2 linked regions of the Homo sapiens genome follow. The protein of the gene in region 1 interacts with the protein of each later gene in a pairwise test. Each region holds a gene or a part of one and is shown on either strand. Other genes may lie near its edges.

The links.
Region 2: the proteins of FOXP2 (region 1) and SATB1 come close enough for resonance energy transfer, tested with the Homo sapiens proteins (one study listed by BioGRID).

The regions. Positions count from the first base shown.
Region 1 is NC_000007.14:114,690,785-114,694,562, forward strand, and holds the end of FOXP2 (forkhead box protein P2), read left to right. Parts: 3' UTR 1-2,981; downstream 2,982-3,778. UniProt on the Homo sapiens protein: Transcriptional repressor that may play a role in the specification and differentiation of lung epithelium. May also play a role in developing neural, gastrointestinal and cardiovascular tissues.
Region 2 is NC_000003.12:18,348,740-18,352,666, forward strand, and holds part of SATB1 (DNA-binding protein SATB1), read right to left. Parts: intron 3,457-3,927; coding exon 3,253-3,456; intron 2,670-3,252; coding exon of another isoform or gene 2,574-2,669; intron 944-2,573; coding exon 431-943; 3' UTR 1-430. UniProt on the Homo sapiens protein: Crucial silencing factor contributing to the initiation of X inactivation mediated by Xist RNA that occurs during embryogenesis and in lymphoma.

The sequences.
Region 1 (3,778 bases):
ACAGAAGCAGCCACATGCTTTGGTCAGCCTTCTGTAACTTCAATTAGTACAAAGGAACCTTTTCCATGAACTACCTGCTGTTTTCTGATGACCTCTGGGATCTTTTCATTTAGCCCTAAACAAAGAAACAAATATGACAAAAACCACAACTAAAAAATGTTAATTCAGTCACAGAGTAATCTTCTGAGGCCAAAAGTCCATCTAAATGCAATGAAGATTTGCTTTCATTAAAGACAGAGGTGAGGACAAAATCCGCAGTGGAAGTTATGATATGCTAGAAAGCAACAAATGTGGATCACTGACCAAAACGATTATGTACTTGATGCAAATGCAGATTGCATATTGTTATATATATAGTACTTTGTGTTTTTGTTTTCCCTCATTCAGTCAGTTATTTTCAGTGGTGAATACATGTTGTTAGAAGATGTCTTGTATGGTCTTAATCTTTGTTGTGTACTATTTTTTTATAGTCTTAAGTTATAATGAAAAAACAAAAAGTAGGAACCAAACATAAAAGGTCTAGTAAAGCCAAAAATTAATTTCATATTGATTTTAAAGTGATCTAGCTGAGTTTTTACACTGAAAGCAAAGATTATAGCAATTGTAGTCCATGGTATTTATTTTCAGTCAAACCAAAGTTACATATAATTCTGCCTCTGCTTATACGGGATATTAACACTAACAATACACTCCCTTCAAAGACTTGCACAGGCCAAATTGTTGGAATGCTGGTTTTCTTGACAATTCCAAACCCCAAAACTATGATAATGAGTTATGATGTAGTTGAAAATAGCATAGTCAGATGTTTGCTTAAAACCTAGAAACTTAACATGTTGCTTTTCATGTGCTGTGCCAAGTCTTGATAATACTTTTTCCCCCAACCAAGGGACCTCATAACCTGATTATGGTTATTGCTTTACAAACAGTTTTGACAGAAGGTGGCTGCTAGAGCTTAACATACGTTCCCGTTCCATGTGATGGAACCGGTTCTTGCAAACTAAGCTCATCATTGATTCTTTGCTGAAGTCAGCAAATAGAGTTAGAGAGATACCCAGTCATCTATCACACCAAATAAAAGGACATAACGGCTTTCAAAAGGGTTTTCCCACTTACCCAAAAGGCTTTCTGAAAGCTTCTACCTCTGCAAAAAAAAAAAAAGAAAAAAAAAAAAAGAAAAACATTAGAACAATTATGGCAGATTGCATGAAACGTGAGAACGTCACAGTAACTGCTACTTTTCATTATGTTTGTCTTTGGGTCATGATCAACGAACCGGAAGTTTACAATATGGTATTAAAAGAAAGATGGGTATGGTGAAAGATGGTTTTCAGTCATCTAGGATCCTACTGTAAGGATTATCTGAAAGGAAAAATGGGTCTTTCAGGTGCATGTTCAAAAGGCTTTGAGGGACTGGAAGTAACTGCGAGAGTTGTACCATCAGAAGGGTGGCCTAAGACTACAATGCTAAAGTATGCATACCTCAGTTAGAAAACTTTTGAAAGGAAGTCTCAGCCACAGAATGCATATACCTGTAGAGTTTTGCATGGGTTTTATATGAATACAATTTTAAAAAATAGCTGCTTGCACATTATACCAGAAAAACCTCCAAAACTGCAATTGCTTTGAAAATAGATTTTAGGTTTTTTGGAGTTTCCTGAAATGCTTGGTCTGTATTTTGATAATTGTGCATATTATGTAAAAATGTTGGTGGACCCATAAATGACCAGACTTTTTCTAAGAAAAATGTTGCTTTAATGCATTTCATGAATTTTTACTCTTATATCATTGCTTGCTAGTAATAGCAAATCTGCTTTTCTGCATCTGCTTTGCGTAGCTATTGTAAGGCTTTGAACTAATGTATGTATTTATTGCTTGAACTTCTGTGCATACCTTATAAAGCATAATGTCTGACAATTTAAATGGCTCATGTATTCTTGCTTCTATCATAAGCTGATTATGGGGACTATGATCTTTTGTATACAGCAAATTTTAAACTGTAGCACAAACATCTGTTTATGTATTGGTGGAATATACCTGTTTTATTTATCTTTTTTGAGGTAAACTAATTTTTGATACTTTTCATTACTGTGTACTATGTTCATACTTTGAATTCTCTGACGTTAGAAGTCATGGTTGAGAATTGTAACAGCTGTTATTCGTTCTGTATTCATGGCTTTCACTGCTGAATAAAATAAAGGACCAAACCTAGGATTTGAAAGAAAACTGTCTACCTCTAACACCAGGGAGTTATCAGATTTTATTTTACATAGTTTTAGTCTACAAAGACACAATTGCTTAAACCTAGTGGGCTTAAGGCTTATATTCTATGTGGTTGGATTCGTGGCACAGTTGTACTATTTGAAAATCAATTAAAATTTTATGTGAATGTTACAAGTATTTGGTAGAATTACCACTAACTGGGTTTTCTTTAGATAACTCAGATATGGAGAAAATGTCATCAGCATTCTGTGTCTACAGCTGCTTAACTTCATAAGAATGCATTTCTTTGTGATTAGGGAATCGAAGAATAGTCAGCTAGGAATAGAGCTACAGAAGTACACTTACATAAACCATCCTGGACTTTAATGTCCCTGGGCAGATTCAGTCGCAAAATCCAATATGATATTTTGTAAAGTTTTCAAGTTGGACATTTACATTTTTGAGAATTTTGAGACTTCATCTTACACATGCCAGTATTAACACACATTTGGACAATAGCTTTATTAAGTCTATAAAGCTATTGAAAGGAACATGGCTTACCCTTGTTATTTCACTAGTTCAGGTTGCAACGAAAGGTTTTTTTGTCCATGAACACTTGGCATATCTTACTTAGCAAAAAAGAAGGATGTACATTTTACTATAGAATTAATGTATGAACAGTGTGTCACTGCTGTTGGATGTAAAAATGTATATGAAACCATTTCATTCACTTGATTACATTTCTGAAGTATAAATAAAAAAATCTAATTCTTTTTGACCCATTTATAACCAATAGGATTTTATTCTTTCGGAGAGACCATTCTTCCATGCCAGAGCCAAGTCATAAATTTGTATACACATGTCCCACAATTTGTTTAAAATTATTTTCTTAGGGATTTGGGATTCATAAACCAGACCATACTCAAATGTAAAGATGGAGGCTGCTTGTCAAATGCATTCCATTAAAAACTGTCTTCAGGTTCCAAATTGCTTCCCCACACACTTATCTCATGTTTTCGTGTTTTTATTCTGATACAATTTGACATTATAAATTCTGAACATTAAAAAATGCCAGGGGAAAACATGATTACTCTTTTTAACTTTATGACTTTTTTGCTTTATTGTCTTTTTTTGTTTTGCCTCTGAATATCAGTCACACCCACAGCATCCAGCCATGGTTTAGGGGAATGTGTCAGAGATAGGTAAGTAGCTTCCAAGAAAATGCTTTTTAGGATATTAGGGATCTGTTCCAGACCCATATTAGTGGAAAAAAACAGGCAAGATAGGGCCTCAGCATTAGAAAATTTCACTTCCTACTTTAACCTAACTTCCAAATCTCCTCACAATCAAAAGTAAAAGGAAAATGAATCTGTTGAGAATTTTTTAATTTTATGCATAACTTAATATTTTCTGTCATCCTAGTGAAAGGGTACCTTGAATAAAGGACTTTCCACAGGATTAAAAAATGGCTTTAAAAAGAAGTATGGACATGAGATTAATGTCCTTGAACATTACGTTTTTTTCTTTATCAACTAGTTCAAAGTAAATGATTACCAATGTATCCTGTCCAGCGTATTTT
Region 2 (3,927 bases), on another chromosome or scaffold:
TTTTTTTTAAATAAGGGGCAAGTTTCCAAAGATCAGTGTGGAGTGCTACAGAAATAATTATAGGAGAGGAAATCATAATCACAGAAGGTATAATGCTTGTTTGAGGCTCCGGAATAAGAACTAAAAAAAAAACAAAAAACACTGGTTTCATGCTTACGGGGTACACACTTTGGTGCATCCCGTGAACACAAATTTTAATACCAAACAATCCTTGATGCTTCACCTGGGGCTGCCAAGCAGTTTGTAAAACAGAGGAAAACATTTAGTGCAGTCTGTATTATCCTTTTCCAACTTTTCTGTTTGTGCAAGTTTTTGAAGATTCATTGGCCAAACAATGAACAACAAAGGTTTTCTGAGAGAAGACAAGGTGGACTTTTCATTTTGTTAGTAAATACCAGTGGCACTGTTGAACGAAACAAATACTTTTATCTCAGTCTTTCAAATCAGTATTAATGTCTGTGTTTCCTTCCACTGACAGCTCTTCTTCTAGTTTCACTGAAAAAAGGGTGTTAGTATTTTTATCTTGGACACTCTCTTCCAAATCCTTCAGCAGCTCCTCTTCTTTATATTCTGCCACATCGACCTCTAAACCGGAATTGTCCTTCAGTTTGCCGTGGTGCTTGAGATAGTACCGCTGGTTCTGAAAGAACTTGATGATGGTGTACTTGGGAAGGTCGAGCTGGGCAGACAGAGTCTGGATGGCCTCTTCGTCAGGGTACAGGCCCACGTCTTGTATGAAACTCTGGAGGATTCCCAAGGCTTCCACTGAAATTTTTGTTCGTGGCCGGGTCTTCTGTCGGTTTTCCTCATCTGACTCTGCTGGAGAGGCCACCGTGGGTTGCCGTGGGGGGAGCCGAGGGCCTGTCTGTGGCTGCTGCTGTGGCTGTGGAGGCGGCGGTGCCTGCTGCTGCTGCTGCTGCTGTTGCTGTTGCTGCTGCTGTTGCTGCAAAGAAACAAGGAGACAATCAGAGCTCTGCTATCGTGGAGTTCCACACAAAGCCGTCTCCAATCAGGAAAAATGTGGTCCCGGATCCTACATATAGCTTCTTTGATAGGGATGAAGATTTAGAAAGAAAAGGTAGGCCGGCGAAATGGCCGACAGCATTTACAAAAAAATCAAAATGATATGACTAGGAAGGGATGAATTAAGACAGCTTTGGGGGGCTACTGCACTTACTTATCAGAGATCAGCAGAGGAAGTGAAAACTCAGTGCTCTGAAAATGTGAGCCATAAAATTCACTAGAATGATACGCATCAAAGGCGAAGACAGCACATCAAATTATGATGTAAATAATTAACAAAGATTTAAAATGAAGATGGAGAGGAAAGGATTTCAAAGACATTTCAGAAAGGTGAGCTACAGAGCAGCGGGGAAAGAAATTTGTGTTCTGCTCCGTTTCATTGGATGGCCAGGAAGAACAGAAGATGAGCTTATGCTCTTATTCAGTGTTATCTGTCATGAGACTAAAGGATTTCTGATATTCTCACACTTGTGAATTTTCTATCAGACAGTTCCAATTTAATACACACACAATTTCTTACCGAATTGCACTAGGCTGACACTGCAAGTTTTTTTCTTACCTCAAAAGGTTCAATCCACCATACGACAGCTAGCGAATTGTTTTGTCTATAGCAAACTCAGATGTGGTTAGGATTTAAATTTAGTGTATACAGACACTTTTTCATAATTAGTATATGTATATGTGCTACAATTTCCATACACAATTATACATAAATATGTGACACATGCACATACTGTACACTCGATATCCATAATTCTTATCAGCAAAGTAAATCAACCTAAGTGGCAAAATATTAGAATGCTGATACCGTGTCTATGCATTTCCTTTTATACCCCTAAGAAGCAATTTTATTAAAAACAATTTATATTTTCGAATAAGTACTTTTTAAATTAATTAACATATATCGTTCTCTTTTTTGTTTTTGCTAAACAGTAAGTTTTTCAGGCTTTCACGATTATTTTAGTGCTTGATATCCTAAAGGGAAGCTCTTTGTCAACTTGTTTTATCTTTAATACACACTTGAGAATTTTTTTATCCTGGTAGATAAATAACTTTATTACTGTTTTTAGTTATACGTATCTATCTATACACACACGCACACACATATATATAATTTTTCACAGAAATACAAAAAAATTGCAGAATGTAGGTGACTCAACAGAGGTAGAATTTTAGGACTCTGGAAGGCAGTGGCATTTTACTTTAAAAGAGAGCTAAAATCATCCCCTTTAACAAAAATAAGCTATACAACTCAAGTTCAATGACAACACGCTTTCTAAGCAACTGGGGCCCTAAGAGCGCTAATGACTACCTGATCCCAGAACTTTTCCATCTAAATTCACAGAAGAGTGTCTTCAGGAGATGAATGGTGACAAGTCCCATGACATGACAAACAAAGCATAAGGCTGCATCTGCTGGCACAGTGAGCTCTGCCCAAGACCATGGTTAGTAGGGCCTTTACAGGTTTGAAAATCCTGACCTGGGGAGCAGGTCTTTAGGTCACCCCCTCTCTGTGTCCCTTGGTGGCATAGGTAACTGTGCCCGCTCACCTGAGGAGCAGCACCGAGCCATGGTGCAGGGGTCGGCAGGCCTGGTAAGAAAACGCCTCTAGACTCTCCTTTCCCAAGGGTGGTGGGAGAGGGGCTCTAAAGGAAAGACAAACAGAGATGACTCACCCCTAACCTACATTCTGTAAAGTGTGGGGAGACAGCTATTACATACAAGGTGAAGGAAGGGCCAAGGACTGTAAGGCAAGATTCCAATTAAGCTTCCCTCCCCTCCTCTTTCTGGACAGAATCCAATGTATAAAATTGTGATTCTACAAACTTCCTTTACAGCAACAGCGGTTGCTCTTTTCCTCAGGGGCACTGTGGTATTAATTAAAAAATAGGTGGTGTTTTAAATTGTGATTTTTAAAAAACACACAAAAATTTTAAGCTCTTAACACAAAACCCAATACCAACAAAGACACATTTGCCAAACGAGTGTAAAAAAGGGGTTCCTGTTGCTTTGGTGGCTGGGAGATGAGGAAAGAGGAACACGATACATACGCTGGAAAAAGTATGTTAATATTCATTTTATCCCCCTGAGCAAGATGGCAGTGTATTGTTATCTCTTGCTAAAAAGCCTATGGTTAGACTGGCAGGAGGAAGAGAAACGCTAATTTCCCTGCTAAGTTTAAAGCTTTATTTACTTATTGCTATACTGAATTGGCCAAAGTAAACGAACCTGAATCTGCTCTGCTGGAACATGGATAATGTGGGGCGGCCTGTCGCCATGGTGATGCACCGCGTTGCTCTCCTGTTCATAAATGGCATCACGTTCTGGCTGAGGAAGACTGAGGAACCTTCGGATCATGGAGAGGTTCTCCCACAGGGTTCTGTTTTCTGGAGAAGGATCTTCTTTCCAGCGTAACAGCTCGCACAACCATCCCTTAGAGACAAGGGCATAATAGGTCAGTTTGTGCCTATGAGAGGGGCTGGCATTTTCCATTAGGAGCTAAAAAGGAAAAACCCTATGAATTAACTTTTTCATAAGCTCAGAACACACCATTCTGCTTTAAAAATTGTTTTTAACTTGTTAAGAGAGGTTATCTGTGGCTGTCAAGGAGGCAGACTCTGTTTCTAATCAAAGTTCAGATTTGCATCTCAAAGGAGGGACATATTTTTTCAGACTCTGAGGGTAACAGAGCATTTATCACAGATTTTTTAATATATGAAATAGGAGAAAAACAAAGTTGATGTGCTTCAGTCTTGCACAACTTTGCTATCTGACGAGTGGCTGGCCATCTGAGGATACGGAAGTGCCTAAGAGGCAGGACAGATTTTAGAAATAATTTTTTTCTAAAAGGATTTCCTAAGCTTGTACTTTTTGGATTTGAAAGAAAACTGTGTGTGAATATTT